Regions from separate parts of the Homo sapiens genome. Here region 1 is linked to region 2. The links come from fine-mapping of genetic effects on gene expression. A gene starts in region 2. The other region holds a variant in brackets. All regions are shown on one strand. Distances are from middle to middle. Region 1 overlaps MYH13 (myosin heavy chain 13). Region 2 holds the start of ADPRM (ADP-ribose/CDP-alcohol diphosphatase, manganese dependent).

Region 1 (8,330 bases), 380 kb before region 2:
TCACCTGGCTCAGCTCTAGCTGCACGCGCAAGATCTTGCTCTCCTCGTGTTCCAAGGAACCCTGACGAAAGCAAAGGAGTGATTGAGAGTGCCGTGGACATCCACCTTCATGAATGGGTATTTTCATCCCCATACGATCAAATGGGTATGCGTTTTTTTAAAAAAATTAAATTTAAATTTTTTTTTTTTTTTGGTAGAGACAGGGTCTGTGTTGCCCAGGCTGGTCCTGAACTCCTGGGCTCCAGTGATCCTCTCTCCTTGGCCTCCTAAAGTGTTGGGATTACAGGTGTGAGCCATGGTGCCCAGAGCCCAAATAGGTTTTGTGTTTTTTTTTTTTTTTGGACAGAGTCTCATTCTGTTGCCCAGGCTGGAGTGCAGTGGCACAATCTCGGCTCAATGCAACCTCCACCCCCTGGGTTCAAGCGATTCTCCTGCCTCAGCCTCCCGAGTAGTTGGGATTACAGGTGCCCACCACTGTGCCTGGCTAATTTTCGTATTTTTGGTAAAGACAGGGTTTCACCATGTTGCCTAGGCTGGTCTCGAACTCCTGACCTTCCAGGTGATCTGCCTGCCTCGGCCTCCCAAAGTACTAGGATTACAGTTGTGAGCCACCATGCCCGGCTGCAAATAGGTATTCTTATACCCATTTTATAGATGAAGAGAACAATATTCAGAGAGGTCTGAGTATTTGGCTTGCTCCCAAATATCCCTAATAGTGATGAAACTGGGACTAAAACTTTGCATCGCTCATGAACAAATTATTTTATGACTTGAGATAGAGTATCTTTCTTAATTAGTGAAAATTTTATTGAGGGTATCTATTATAATAGTGACCATAAATCAGGAGTCAACCTATTCTCTAAAATGACAGGGCAACTGCTCTCCTGTTATCCTGTGTCGGTTCGTATTTCCCTAGAAACCACCAGCCATCCTGACCACCACCGATTACTGCATCGGGAGATGCTGGGTGTGTTTGGATTATACAGGATTCTTGATAGCCAAAAATGATTGTCTGTGCCTCTATGTTAAACATAACTGAGAGATTCTGCGCTGCTCTCAGGATGTTAGGTGATTGATTTTCTGCTTCCTGAGAGGAAGACATTGAAGAACATAATGAACACATTTATTTATTTTCAAAGGGGAACTGTGCCAGAGAACGCCTAGGAGATAAAGTAGCAGCCCGTGGATGTTTCAGCCCCTGGGATGGCTGAATGTTACTCCCAATGGAGACTCAGGGTCTCCTGGCAGGAAAGGCCCCATGGGGTGGTGAAGGGCAGCCTCTTTCAGTTCCCTGTCCTCCTGAATTTCTGAATGTCATATCCTAGACACTTACCTCCACTTCTTCTAAGGCGACCTGCAGATCTGACTTTTCCTGCTCCACTAGCTTCTTGGTCTTTTCCGCTTCCTGAAGATTCTTGCCAGTTTCTGCAATCTGCTCAGTTAAGTCGGAAATCTCTTCTGCAAAGGACAGGCTTGATTTAGGCTGTTTCAACAGGCTCCAGTTTATAGTATAGGCATTTGCCAGGCAATTCAGGGATGGGCGATTCATTCATGACATTTATACAGGAGAGAATACAGGGCAGCCGTTCAGATGAGGTGTTGGCAAGACAGGGATGTGTTGCCTCACCTGCACTAGGCAGACAGGAACCACAAGTAAAGAATAGAAACTTAAAACTTCAAAAGTACCATATACAAAACGGTCATAGAGAAGACCAGAGAAAACAACTGTGGGGAAAACGCATAGAATCATAGTCTGCAGAACCAGAAGGGGCTTTGGAAAGTGTTGGGTGTGGTCTTCTGATTTTGTAGATCAGAAATCTGAGGTCCTAAGGGATTCAGTGGCATGTGCAAGAATACAAAGCCACCTAGAGACAGAATCACTGAAGGGTCTTCTCTAACGGAGCAGTGGGCTCAGCAACCCACTGTTCCTTCAGTTCTCAAAAATGAGACTTAGCTGCTGCCGTGCCTTACATTAAAAAGGTCTGGGCCTTGGGGCAAACTGAGTCAATGTGAGGCATGATGGGTGAGGATCGTGTGGGGCAGTGGGAAGGAGGTGTCTGGAGATGGCTGTGGCCAAATGGGGAAGGGGTTGGCAGGAGGAGAGGGGGACATAGCACACACCAGTGGTGGAGACAGCTCACCTTGCAGATTTTTGTTCTCTCGCCTCAGTGTCTCTAACTGGTCCACCACCTCCTCATAGGCATTCCTCATCTTGAAGAGTTCAGTGCTGAGTGACCTGGACTCCTTCTGAGCAGCTTCCAACTCAGCCTGGCTTTCGTCCAGCTTTTGCTTCCACTCTGCAAGGACCTGGGAGATGACAAAGGGACATGGGAGAAGCAGAAAGCAGGGGTGACTCAGAAGAGTTCATGCAAACAAGGGCTGTCAGTAACACCAACGTTTTGCCCTTCCATCCTTAGGGACTGAAGAAGGAGGAGGAGCACTGTTCTAGATCAGGGACCCCAAACTGTGATATCCCTGCAGACCCTCTGCTGCATTCTCACAGACATTATAATCTCAGTGGAACGGAATTAGCTTTCACTAAAAATAAAATTGCCTTTGGAGGGACTGTCACAGTAGTCAAGAAGACACCTCAAGTCCCTGAAACTGGGAAATGATGCTCCAACTGGGGGCCTTCTAGGATGTGCAGGTATCTCACACATCTAAGCGTGAAACTGTTGTTTTCACCACTGCCACTGCAAAACATTTGTCCCTTTTCCAAATTCAGGTATTTTCATGTAAATAGCATTTCCCCAACTTGAATTATCCTCATGCCATCTTCACAAAGAAAGCGGCTGGGGAAGGACCTTGTCGAAGTTCCTCTGCTTCTTGTCCAGTGTGGCACAGGCGGTGTGGGAGCGCTCCAGATCCCGCATCAGATCCTCCACCTCTCCCTGCAGCCTCTGCTTGGTTTTCTCCAACGATGCGCACTTGGAGTTCGCCGTCTCCGTGTTCTCCTCTGCTTCCTGGAGCCTCTGGGCCAGTTTTTTCCTACGAAAACCAGATTTTTTTTTTCCCCTTCGCAAAGGTGGAATATTTCAGTAGGTAACTGTCAGATGGGAAGAGAAATGAATAGCGTGGAAGGGACTGGTGTTTGATGAGACCAAGACCTAGGATTTGGTGAGTGGGGAGGATCCAAGTGTCACCGAGAGATTCTCAAAATGCTTGGTGGCAAAGCAGGTCCCTAAGGAGCACCTCCAGGGAGCTAGGTGGAATGGACAGTTCCCGAGAAGAAGGACAGGGAGACCCCCAGAGGGTGGGGGGTACAATCCGAGTGTTTCAGAAACCACAAAGGCGTGGGCAGGAAAGAATCTCTCAAGATATGAAGACTCCTGGTCCCTTGGCTTGTGTCCTCGGGCCCCCTCTGCTATTGCCACCCTGGAGCCCCTACTTGGCCTCCTCCAGCTCCTCTGTGCGCTGAATGGCGTCCGTCTCGTATTTGGTCCTCCACTGGGCAACCTCACTGTTGGCCTTGGACAGCGCCCTCTGCAGCTCGGCCTTGGCTTCCTGCTCCTCCTCATACTGTTCCCGCAGCAGGTCACAGTCGTGGCGGGAGGACTGCAGGGCGTGCGCCATGGCGTTCTTGGCCTGGGAATGACAGCGGTGACAAATTGCAAAAACATTTGACCCTTTTCCAAGTTCAGGTATTTTCATTTAAATCGCTTTCCCCCAACTTGAATTATCCCTATGCTGTCTTCACCAATTTTGCCATATCAGCATATCACCTGGTTTATTTAATTTTTTTTCAAGTGGACTCCTTAATTATATTTAAATATATTTAACAAAAGAGTAAACTGTCACAGGAAAGTAAGTGGAAAACCATTGACATTTGCCATAAACAGAAGGTAACCATAAGTGCAATGGAAATAAAGCAATGTTATCATGTCTAGCTAGGTACTGTTGCCTGCTGGGACTCCATGCCTGGGGTCTACCCTCTATTTCTTAATAGGGTAAATAAGCAAATGCTAAGGAAGTGTGGTTCACACTGAGGCCTTTTCCTTGATATAATCAGAAGGATTGGAACAATTAAAAAGGGAATAATTTTCTCACTACTTGATGCAATGGTATGGAATGCTGTGACCAGGAGAAGCCTGAAAGCATCTTTTGATGTCACCACTGGGCTATGTCCCCACACTGGGGATTGCTGATGTGAGCTTCGCTGTTTCCACGGCTGGACTTCCTCCTCCTAGGCAGAGAAGACATGCCTAGAGGCCTCCATCCCTCACTCCCTCCCATTGGAGGGATGTAAGGGCAACAGTTTAGCTCCGACTATAATGGCCACAAGACGCCCTCTGGTGCCACCATCAAAGAGAGAGTTCTGTCAGCCCACTTCAGTAATTTGTACATTTTCATCTTTTTAAAAATGCAATAGACCAAGCGTGGTGGCTCATGCCTGTAATCCTAGCAGTTTGGGAGGCCGAGATGGGCGGATCACCTGAGGCCAGGAGTTTGAGACCAGCCTGATCAACATGGAGAAACCCTGTCACTACTAAAAATACAAAACCGGGCATGGTGGCACATGCACGTAATCCCAGCTACTTGGGAGGCTGAGGCAGGAGAATCACTTGAACCCAGGAGGCAGAGG[T/A]TGTGGTGAGCCAAGATCGAGCCATTGCACTCCAGCCTGGGCAACAAGAGTGAAACTCCATCTCAAAAAAAAAAAAAAAGGCAATAAATGACACACTTTGCCTAAGAAGGAAAACTCAGCTGTTGCTGTATTCTTGCCAAAGGACAGCCCGCTCCTGCAGTGGCTCTTCTCAGTACTTGTTCAGGCTTGGGTTCTCACCACTTCCCCTTTCCCCTCATCTACCAAAGATCTTTACCATACAACAGAAAGATGGGAGACAAATATGGCGCTTGTCCTTTTTCAGAAGAAAAAGGTGGAGCTTGGGAAAATTCCAAAAGATTGCCCTATAAGTCTTAGCCAGCGTACAGCAACCTCGGAATTCCATTCATGCAGTTTTTTGGACTCTTAGTCCCCTATTCTGATACTTGAATATGAATTGGCAGCACCAAGTACCTACTGTGTGCACTGTTCTGCTAGGCACAGTAGGTACAGTGGGGACAAACTATTCTTGCCCTCCATGAGTTTATAGATCTGTGGGGAGACATGTATTATAAACACAATATCTAGACATTGAAATCAAGAAGGTGATGATGTTCATGTTTATGCGACTGTCTCAAGGGTGCTCCCAAAACCATGGAGCCTTCTTGGAGGAGGGGAGCTTAAAATCAGGTGGTATAGGAGGTGACACATCAGGAATAATGAAGAAGAAAGAGGAGGGGGATTTCAGGTGGCCAGGATGAATTGCTGGGCAGAATGATCAAGTGTGTGCAGTGATGGGGAGGAGGTGCCCTGGCTGGAAAGGGGAGTTTCTCAGACCACCCTGCGGGGGACAGAGGAGGCCAGGGGATGGACCACCATAGGTACGGTTTTCTATTCCTGAAGAAGGAGATCCAGTGCCAAGGTCCTCTAACCTTAAAGGACAGGTTCCCACCATGCTGCAAGGCAGACAGGAGAAGCAACAGGTTTCTTTCTTTCTTTCTTTAATGGAGTCTCGCTCTGTCTTCCAGGCTGGAGTGCAGTGGCGTGATCTCAGCTCACTGCCACCTCCGCCCCCTGGGTTCAAGGAATTGTCTGCCTCAGCCTCCCGAGTAGCTGGGATTACGGGCACCTGCCAGTACACCCAGCTAATTTTTTTTTGTATTTTTAGTGGAGACGGGGTTTCGCCATCTTGGCCAGGCTGGTCTTGAACTCCTGATCTCGTGATCCATCTGCCTTGGCCTCCCAAAGTGCTGGGATTACAGGTGTGAGTCACCGTGCCCAGCTGCAGCAGATTTCTTGATGTAGCACTGCTCTGACCAGCTTCACGGGTGAAGTGGTCATATAGCCTGGCTTCTCAGGTTCAATCTGACTCTATATCTTTACCTTGGTTTCTTCTTCCATTTGCCTCTTAAGCTCCTCCAGCTGCTGGGTGAGGGCCTGCTTGCTTTTGGTCAGCTGTGAAATCAGAGACTCCTTCTCTTCCACTCGGTGGCTCAGCTCCCCTACCAAACAGATGTGGCCCCCACGTCAGTGTTACTGACCACCCTCTCCCATGGCCCGGCTGGACCCAGAGCCCTGCCCATTCTCACCATTTTGGGTCTGCAGTCTTGCTTTCTGCATGTTCAGATCATGGATCAACTGTGTCTGTTGCTCGTCCTTGGCTTTGATTTCACTAAATTGATCTTCTACCGTCCGGCACGTTCTTTCTATGTTACTCTTTAACAAACAGAAAGTCAACACGAATGGGAAGAAATGGATTCCTAGTGCCCAGCATTGAACTGAACAGTGTAATCATTTAGTTTCTTGTCAGGTAAAATAAAAATAAAAGTACAGAACAAAAAAAAGTTCAGTTTCAAAAAAATCATAATCGGCCAGGCGCAGTGGCTCACGCCTATAATCCCAGCACTTTGGGAGGCCGAGGAGGGTGGATCACCTGAGGTCAGGAGTTTGAGACTAGCCTGACCAACATGGTGAAACCTTATCTCTACTAAAAATACAGAAATTAGCCAGGCGTGGTGGTGCATGCCTGTAATCCCAGCTACTCGGGAGGCTGAGGCAGGAGAATCGCTTGAACTCGGGAGGCGGAGGTTGCAGTGAGCCGAGATCATGCCATTGCACTCTAGCCTTGGCGGCAAGAGTGAAACTCCGTCTCAAAAAAAAAAATCATAATTATTTCAGATTTGTGAATGCAGCTCAATCACCAATCACTTGGAACATCAGGTAGATAAGTATTTAATGATTTGTAAACAACCCTTTGAGAAGATGTCACTTTTAAGTGGATCTTTGGGATCCTCTTGTAATATAAGTGATTCGTGAATAATTGCAAGCAATACAAGCCTGTGAATATTTGCAAGCAATATATTCAGATGACAGTGTTAAGCATTTCATTCAATAACACAGAAGGTTCCCCATGGTGCAGGCCGTATGAAGAGATTCACCTCTCTGGCTTCCAGTTGGCCTGTATTTTTGTGAAGTTTGTTCAAAACCCTTGTGTGTGTTGACCTTTCTCTCCTCCTGCTGCTCCATAAAATAGAAAATAAAATGTATAGAGCATATGTTTTTCTTTAGAATGGTAAGTATGAGATGGCAGTGGAGGAAGCAGGGACACTAATTCCACGGGCGTCCTGGAGGAGCTTAGGATCTCTTTGAGAAGATGACACGCAAACATGAAGGAATCAAAGCAGGGAGAGTTGAAACGCGATGGCAGCTTGCAAGGAGAATCGTCAAAGGGGACAACTGAAAAAGCGTTAAGAGACATGACGTGCTGCTTCCCCTGGATGTTAAAATTGAGAACAGAGAGCAGCACACGGCAATTCTGGAGATAGGGAGGCTGGAGTGGGGGCTGTTTATAGGCATAGTGTATGGGGGATGCTGGAGGCCCTTCCTACCCAGCTACCCCTGCAGGCTGGCCTGGCTCGCCGAGAGAGAGGTGTGGGAGGGGAACATTTACAGAACCAAGTTCTTAGAGGAAGAAAGAAAACCAAGGGAAAAAGGGCAAACACATGGGAAAGCAGGAAAGAAAGAGAAAAGGAGTCATCAGCCGGAGCCAGAGGCTGCAGTCGCGGAGTGAAGAAGCAATCAAGGAGGCACAGGGCTGCGTGGACGCAGACCCTAAACACTGGCAGCAGGGGGCGCTGGAGAGACCACTCTAGTTCTCTGATTCATATCTCCCTTCCTTTTCTGGACAGATGCCCTGACCTTCCGGGAAACCCTCGGTGAGAGGCCCACAGCCTCGCTTCTAGGGTCACCACTGCTTCTTCCAGTCTAGCCAAACAGCTCCTAGTACAGCTCAGAGCACCCTGCAAGGAGGGCACGTGTTAAATCGAGGAGCACACATGCTCCACGAGGAATTCTTTGCTTTGAGGCCATGCACAGAGGTGGGTTCACTATGAAGCTTGTGAAATAAGCTTCAGGGCCCGCATTTGCATGGGCCACAGAGAGTCTGGGAGCTGCAGAAGGTTCAAGGGAAGAGGAGCCATCACAAGCAGAATATTCTAGAAGGCATTTCTGGCAAATGGCCCAAAGAGGCCTCAGGAGAAAAGAACTTGAGTCTTCAAGGTAACCTGCGACTTTTTTGTCTCATTTTAAATATCAACTTTCATGCCTAATTTTTATAAGTTTGTATACTTTTTTCTTAAAGAGCCCCAATCGGCCAGGCACAGTGGCTCATGCCTGTAATCCCAGCACTTTGGGAGGCTGAGGTGGGTGGATCACCTGAGGCCAGGAGTTCAAGACCAGCCTGGCCAACATGGTGAAACCCCAACTCTACCAAAAATACAAAAATTAGCCA
Region 2 (8,330 bases):
GGCTAAGGTAAACAACTAGATACAAGGTGGTATGGTTCTGAAACAGATCCTTTTGCTCTGAAAGACATCAAGTGGCAAAACTTGGAAGACTGAACTGTAATCCAGCCTGGGCAACAGGAGTGAAACTCTGTCTCAAAAAACAAACAAATAAACAATACCCTGAAGATTATCTGAACACTGAACAGCAGCAAAATTATCAGCGTCAATTTTCTAATTTTGATGGTTGTATTGTGGTTATGCTAGAAAAGGTCCTTGTTTGTAGGAAATACACCAAAAAGTGTTTGGAGCTAATGACGCAACATGTCAGCAAATAAATACTCTCAAATTATTTAGGAAGACTTTTCAGATTATTTAATAATACATTTTTTAAATAAAACAAACGTTAGAATTGCACTTGAAATTCCAAACTAAAGTCAAAAAAAGCTTCCATATTCTAGAATTTTCCCGCCACAACTTTCCTAGCTTTTGTTTCTTTGTGAAACTAAAGAAACTTACTGCTTATTAGACTATGAAAATCTTACCCAATACTACTTATTATGCCAAAGAGTCTCATATATATGTATGTCAGTACAAAACTTAACACTGCTAAGTTCCTAAAGCCTATGAATTCCCAGATTTAATCATTAACCTTTGTATATAATGTTATCAAAAGAGACTCCAAAGAATGGAAAGATTTAAGCAATACTTTAAAGATTTACCTAAAACCTCTAAACCAAATCTTAAAAGTCCTAGGATATTCACTAAAATGCAAAGTTCTTATAAATAATTTCTAAATATTTCAAGATGCTAATCCAGAGCAGTTCCTGGCATTTCCTGACCAGGCTCTTTTCACCTCCCCCTCATCCACAGAGGGCATGCAGTATCTACTCGCACTATGCTCCTTGCCTGATCTCTAGGAAGCCTTCTCAAATCTCAAGGCTGGGACTTGCTTTTGCTCTCACAACATGGTAAGCTTCCTTCTGGCCTGGCAGAATCGCATCTAGTAAAATACTTTACTTCTGTGTCTGTTTCCCTTCCGTGTGCACCTCAAAGGCTCGACTACATCTTACTCATCTTCGTACCCTCCAGATTTCATCTTGCCCAGTCAAATCTATCCACAGTATATCTTTTAACATTGTTATGCAGTGGTATCCTAGCTTGGATCCTGGAACAAATAAAAGACATTGATAGAAAAACAAGTGAAATCCAAATACAATCTGTAATTTAATAGTTGTGTGCCATTTAAAATTTCTTAGTCATGAAAAATGTGTCATGGTTATACAAGATGTTAATATTAGGGGAAGCTGGGTGAAAGGTATGTAGAACCTATGCTATCTTTGCAATTTTTTGGTAAATCTAAAGTTGTTTCAAAACAAAAAGCTAAAAAACAACAAAAAAGGTGCTAGTCCATAGCCAGGAAGACCTTTATACAGGGCTGAGCAGATGATAATCTACTTACTCTCTGCCTTTTCTTTCTTGACGTGCTTCATTCCAGCCAGTAAAGCTCCTCCAATAGCAAATGTGATTGCTAAAGACTTCCAGGAAACAGGCTACTGGGGCAGGGATTTCAAACATAAAAATTCTAGTAAGATGCAAACATTTAACCATACAAACTTATTAAAGTAGTTTTTAATATACATACACACAGGCCATGATGTTAAATGTGCAAAATGTTTCAGGGATGAGAAAATGCTCAAAGTTTCTGTGGATGCAGTTAGGTCTGGGATCTGAACTACAAAGGCATTCATCTCCAGGGGAAAGTTCCCTAAGTCAGTTCTCTTCATGTAAATAAAAAAAAAAAAAAAAAAAAAAAAAAGCTCAAGTACCACGATTGTTACTATGTGTGACCCTAGCTCCAGTAATGACTTTAAAACCAATTATGGCCGGGCGCGGTGGGTCACGCCTGTAATCCCAGCACTTTGGGAGGCGGAGGCGGGTGGATCACCTGAGGTCGGGAGTTTGAGACCAGCATGGCCAACATGGTGAAACCCCATCTCCACTGAAAATACAAAAATTAGCCGGGCGTGGTAGCGGACCCCTCTAAACCCAGCTACACGGGAGGCTGAGGCAGGAGAATCGCTTGAACCCGGGAGGCGGACGTTGCAGTGGGCCGAGATAGGGCCACTGCACTCCAGCCTGGGCAAAAGAGCAAAACTCCGTCTCAAAACAAAAACCAAAATCCAAAAACACACACACAAAAAACAATTATCTGCTTATGCTGATACTGAGATAAATAGACCAAACGAAATTTGGGAGGTTAACTTAACTCTGGCTTCCAGAAGTAACAATGCCAAAGTAGAAGAGGAATCTAAAAGTGGAGCTTCTTGCAAATTACACCCATTATTTCTTTGTACCCTTATTCAACTCCCCAAATGAAGATGATGTTGGCCAACTAGACTAGGCCTAACTCATTAACCTTCCCGTAGCTCCAAAAACCCACTTCTCTTACCACAGGGTAGTGGCTCTCAAGTTATTTCTGGGTCAGAATTAGAACTCGAGAGAACCCCAAGAAAAAGGCAGATCCACACATAACTAAGTTCCACTTTTTGTTTCAATTTCAACGTATACATGGAACTCTGGATGGGGCTCAAGTGACAAATTATAAAAGTCCTCTGACTTCTCAATCACGGTAAACTTTAGGTTCATACCCTTAAGAAAACCTGAAACTTAATTTTTTTTTTTTTTTTGATGGAAACGCTAACATAAAATCCAAGTCGGGGCATCCAGCCACGTGGAGAGGGTGTAAAGTCTCAAGTTCTCTGTGGAGAACTGGGACTACCCGCAAGGCACGGGAAATGTAGGATGAAATTCCATGACCCAGGTAAGGCGCGCAAGCTAAGGACAACTTTAGGGGAGGCGGAGTAGTGTCTGAGGTTACGACCAAGTGGGATGTGGCCGCTGGGCTGGCCGACAGCCGCGACGAGCACCAGAAGGGTTCCAGGTGTGCACTCACCCCGGGCTTCGAGGGGCGCGTGGAGTCTCCGGGGCCCTTCTGCGACCACGGGGGTGGCGGCCTCGCAGTGCTGAGGGGCCGGGTTCCCAGGCAATAGCCAGGGCGCCCCGAGGCACGCCACGCCTCCGCTTGCCGCGCGCAGAACTGCCTCAGCAAGACTCTCGCAGTCCCCTCGGCTGGGCCCCAAAACTCGAGTCCGCGAGGCAAGAAGCGCCAAAGTTGGCCACCCAGAGGCCGCATAACTCGTCCGGGTACTAGGACCAGCATCGCCATGAGCCTCGGAGACCGGGTCTCCTTTGACCCTCCCCGCGATTTCCGGTAGCGTTCCGCTTCCTCCGGAAGTCGGAAGGAGTCGCTCTGTCCGTCCCGCTCGTTGGTGGCGCTGTTACATAGCCCGTAGTCAGAGGCCTTTCAGCCCAGGGGCCGGCGCACGGTAGGTAGTTCCCTGCGGCTGGAGGCGGGTCTGGCGCGGGCTGGGCGGTGCTGCGGGGCCGCGGGACAGCGGAGCGCCGGGAAGGGGGCTGCCTTAGGGGTCCAGGTGCGCGGCTGGGCCGAGGCAAGGCGGCCCCAAGCGCTGGGGGCCCCCGCTTTGGTCGTGGGCTTCGGTGACCACAGCTAGCTCCTCGCGCCGGGGACACCCCCACCTCGGAAGAGAGAACACACTGCCTAGAGACCCACGGGACTGGGCAGCCCCCATAACCCTACCTTGTCTGGCCGACTTTGTCAACCTCGTCCTGCCGGCCAAGAGGAAGTGCCAGAATGTTGACTCCTTTACATCTTTGAAATAGAAACCGACCCATTGCGATTGAAATAGTCTTTAACTTAAAAAAAATTGCTAATTAGGATAATTTGAGTGGTTAGGGCGGTCTGGAAGAACTTTAAATGCCCAGCGCTTCTAGTTATTTAACATTATAATGTAACCTAATTAATAAAGCATAGCAGTGTGTAAAGAAATATAGACAGCATGATATCCCATCCGTTAACTTAGTCTTCCTGGGTCCCAGTTTCTTAAAATACTCTCACGGACTCCCTTGCTCCCTACAGTTTCGTTATTTGAAGTTTGTTATGGGTTCCTCATCTGGAACTGCTTATGTTCCTTGTTAATGAGGCCAAGAGCATTCGTAGGTTTTTCGTTCTTTGTGAAAGTCTAACTTCATTTCATCTGCCTTTATTTATATCTTAATATCCGCAATATTAACCACTCCCTCCCCGCCCCTACCTCGGTGGTTGCTTTACAAAATACAGAGAAATAAAAAAAGGAAAATCGTCCTCTAATTATCTTCCTTAACTACAGATCCCGCTCCTGTGTGGCTTTTTTTTCCCCCATGGGACCGACTCTGAGTAGGAGAAACTCGTGCTCTGATGATTGTTGGACCAGAGCATGGTTGGTTTGCTTGTTTTCTATGAGTTAGCCAAACTAGCCAACTGTTCTGTTCTCTAACCCAGTAACGGAACATAGTGTTACCTGTGTTTCTTGATTCGCGGTTGGACTAGAATTTTCAGAAATTTCTGCCAAAGTTCTTAAATGTTTGTTCAGCACTTCAAGTCGTTAATCAAACTATTTTTTTCTATCTTATAGTTGCCTGTGGGTAGGATTTTTGCTCTTTTATCTTTGTGTATTTGTTTGCCCAGGGATAATTTTTTCTTGTAATTGACAAAAAGACATAAAAGTACCTTGTGTAGTCAGGCAGATAGCATACAAAATTATTGTTCATCTCTGATTGCCCAATTGTAGGTTACCTGATCAGCCACCCAAATTAAGATTGAAGTCAGTGTTTCTACCTGATCTATTAAATTTTATTTGCTAAAGTGCTTCTTTTAGTAGCAACTTCTTCATATTAATTTTATAATATTAAATAAAATGCTATCATTGAAAACAGTTCTTGGGGCCAGATGTGGTGGCTCACGCCTGTAATCCCATCACTTTGGGAGGCTGAGGTGAGTGGGTCACTGGAGCCTAGGAGTTTGAAGCTGCAGTGAGCTGTGATCGGGCCACTGCCTTCCAGTCTGGGCAACAAAGCAAGACTCTGCCTCTAAAAAATAAATAAAATAAATATAAAATATAGTTCCTGGCTCAAAGTAGGTGTTTTATAACTGCATTTTGGATGAATTGCTAGTAACACCTGAGCCTGATGGCAAGGACCCATGAAACTTTAGTGCCAGAAGGCGCCTACAGTGTTATCCCTTATAGACCTTATCACTTTTATTACTGCTGTGAAACCACCAAAGTCACCAAATGAGGTTTATGTTTTGTTTTCCAAGTTAGATATTTTTCTTTTCTTTCTTTTTTTTTTTTTTTTTTTTTTGAGACAAAGTCTCCCTCTGTCGCCCAAGCTGGAGTGTGCAGTGGTGCGATCTCAGCTCACTGCAACCTCCGCCTCCTGGGTTCAAGCGATTCTCTTGCCTCATCCTCCCGTGTAGCTGGGACTAGAGGTGCGTGCCACCAGGCCTGTCTAATTTAAAAAATATATATATTTTTAGTAGAGACAGTGTTTCACCATGTTAGCTAGGACGGTCTCGATTTCCTGACATCGTGATCTGCCCGCCTCGGCCTCCCAAAGTGCTAGGATTACAGGCTTGCGCCACCACACCCGGCCCCAATTTAGATATTTTTCTTGAGAGAAGCAGGGCATGGATTAGTATCATCTGATATTGGTTCTATCAATAGTGATCAGATTTTGTTCTTGACATAACTTTAGGCTGGTTTGACTGGGGACAGCTAGGCCCTAACTTTTGTGAACTTCCCAGCACCCTAATGTGTTTACTTCATTTTTGTTCCAGGCCCCTGCCCCTTGTGCCTAACTCCTAACCACAAACATTTCCTGCCCCAACTTAACTTTCCTTTTGGTATGGTATCTGCGTAGAAAACATATGCTGCACCCTTAGGCTAGGAGCCTCTGTTACAATAGTTTCTCCTAACAAAGTCTCTCTTTATTAATCTCTAGACTTTCCCTGCTGCCCCCTTCACCTTTGACAATAGAGTGAAGAAATCATACTCTTTTCAGGGTAGAGCTACTTCTTTTACAAGTTCATTATTGATGCTTGAAGGCTTTCCACAAGGAACTTCAGCCTTCTGCCAATCTTAAGTATTGGAAAAGTTTTATTAGTATGATCTTATAGCAACTTTTCAGTAATTAAGCATCCTTGGGTATGGGAGGCCTGAGGCAGGTGGATCACTTGAGCTCAGGAGCTTGAGACCAGCCTGGGCAACATGGCAAAACCCTATTAGTATGATCTTGTAGTAACTTTTCAGTAATTAAGCATCCTTGGGTATGGGAGGCCTGAGGCAGGTGGATCACTTGAGCTCAGGAGCTTGAGACCAGCCTGGGCAACATGGCAAAACCCTATCTCTACAAAAGAAAAAAAAAAAAAAGCCAAAAAAAGTCAGGTGTGGTGGTACATGCCTGTAGTCTTAGCTACCAGGGAGGCTGAATTAGGAGGATCACTTGAGCCCAGGAAGTCGAGGCTACAGTGAGCCATGATCGCACCACTGCACTCCAGCTTGCGCAGTAGAGCCAGACCCTGTCTCAGGAAAAAAAAAAAAAAAAAAATCTCTCATGCCTAAGGTAGTTTTCTCAAAATACTGGCTGCTTATCCTGTACTATGACATGATAGGAATTTTGAGAGCAACTCTTGTAAACTTTTCTACATTATTCTCTTCTATTAAAATGTTGCAGTAGTTTCAGTTATGAGGCTCATTAGACAGATTTTCAGATATATAATTTTAAAATTATTTTCTTAACATGCGTATAGTACTTTATGGTTTAGAGATTTACAGAGTAATAGTTTACTGTGATCATAACTCAGTTGAAGCTCACGATAACCTATTGAGGGTTATTTTGCTTCAGGAAACACGAGGACTATAATTCAGTTCTGGGTTTTTCATTTCAAAGGGTTCAGCACTTCATAATACCTCTTTAAAACTTAGACAGCGTAGCATGTAATAAATGGTGCAGGCAAACTTTGAAAACAAAGTTCACTAAAAACTTGCCATTCTCCTTTCTATTCAAAAGCGAAATATTTCCTTAGGTCTTCTAATTTTTCCAGATTTGATTTTCTCTAAAGTTTTGAATTTTCTTTTTTAAAAAAACTTTATGTATACTTTTTTTTTTTTGAGATGGAGTCTCGCTCTGTTGCCCAGGCTGGAGTGCAGTGGCGCGATCTCGGCTCACTGCAAGCTCCGCCTCCCAGGTTCACACCATTCTCCTGCCTCAGCCTCCTGAGTAGCTGGGACTACAGGCGCCTGCCACCACACCCGGCTAATTTTTGTATTTTTAGTAGAGATGGGGTTTCACCATGTTAGCCAGGATGGTCTCGATCTCCTGACCTCGTGATCCGCCCACCTTGGCCTCCCAAAGTGCTGGGATTACAGGCGTGAGCCACCACGCCTGGCCTATATGTACATTTTTAAACACACATAAAAGTAGTTAGAATAAACTTCATGCACCCATTTCTAGCTTCCACAATTATCCTGTACTCACTGATTTTTTTGTGTGTCTGTATTTGATGGAGGGAGGGAGCTATTTTGAAAACATTTCCTGACATTAGAATGCTTATTAATTCTAAGTTTCCTCACTGGAGGTGGCTTTGAGTTTTTGATCTCTCTGTTCACCAGGACCAATCTTTCTGAGCTCCCCCTACATGTCCCTGAACCAAGAAAGGAAAGGCTAAACTCGCCAGGAGAGTCAATTCCCTGACCACCTGGTTCTTTTTGCACTGCCGTACTCACTTCTGATCCTATCTTTCCCTGAATATGTTTCTGAAATCTGAAATGGCCCCAAATCAGAAATTTGAGCACCAACATGAAGCTCAAAGGAAATGTTAATTGGAGCATTTTGGATTTTGGATTTTCAGATCAGGAATGCTCAACTGTTAAGTATATTCCAAAATCTGAAAAAGTCCGAAATCTAAAACACTTCTGGTCCCAAGCATTTTGGATAAGGAGATACTAACCTTATTTTTAAAAGCCATGTATATTCAACACTTTGGATCTCTCTTTTTACCCCAGAACACATCGCTGTTTTGAAGTGTGTGCCCCTTGGTGCTTCTCTCCACATTAACTTTCCTTAAAAATTGCCAGTTCTTAGGATAGCCTTGAGTTTTTCTAAACTGAACTTGTTCCAGTGGAAGGTGTATTTGAGAGGATTTTGGTATCAAATGACAGAAAATCAATTTGATTTAGCTTTAAGCCCAGGAGAATTTATGTGCTGACATGTGTAACTAAATGACCAGTGTTCTAGCAGGGACAGGTGAATTTAGGTATTCAACTAATGTTTTCAGAAATCTCCATCTTTCCATCATTCAGAATTGTTTCTTTCTATGTTGGATTTCTTGTCAGTTCATTTTCTCCAAAAATTGAAGCCTTAGTTTATCAGCGTTTGTAGTAGTGGCAGTGCCT

What was found.
Region 1: its variant is fine-mapped to the expression of ADPRM in Th17 cells (Schmiedel 2018, PIP 0.95).

The regions. Positions count from the first base shown.
Region 1 is chr17:10,309,770-10,318,099 of GRCh38, forward strand. It overlaps MYH13 (myosin heavy chain 13), which reads right to left. Exons shown (of 41, transcript NM_003802.3): 28 at 6,130-6,256; 29 at 5,924-6,042; 30 at 3,389-3,585; 31 at 2,805-2,988; 32 at 2,142-2,307; 33 at 1,334-1,458; 34 at 1-61. LOC107985004 (a long non-coding RNA gene) reads left to right here. Exons shown (of 5, transcript XR_007065617.1): 2 at 7,729-8,098. Among named protein-coding and RNA genes, the nearest start is that of MYH13, 59 kb to the right of the region's middle. RefSeq lists an enhancer at 1-163. The variant T/A (reference allele first, on the strand shown) is at 4,583.
Region 2 is chr17:10,694,303-10,702,632 of GRCh38, forward strand. ADPRM (ADP-ribose/CDP-alcohol diphosphatase, manganese dependent) reads left to right here and starts at 3,292. Exons shown (of 4, transcript NM_020233.5): 1 at 3,292-3,365. It overlaps SCO1 (synthesis of cytochrome C oxidase 1), which reads right to left and starts at 3,231. Exons shown (of 6, transcript NM_004589.4): 1 at 2,933-3,231; 2 at 1,439-1,529. The coding sequence starts at 3,205. RefSeq lists enhancers at 2,208-3,031, 3,032-3,856, 3,150-3,444, 3,160-3,209 and a silencer at 3,330-3,659.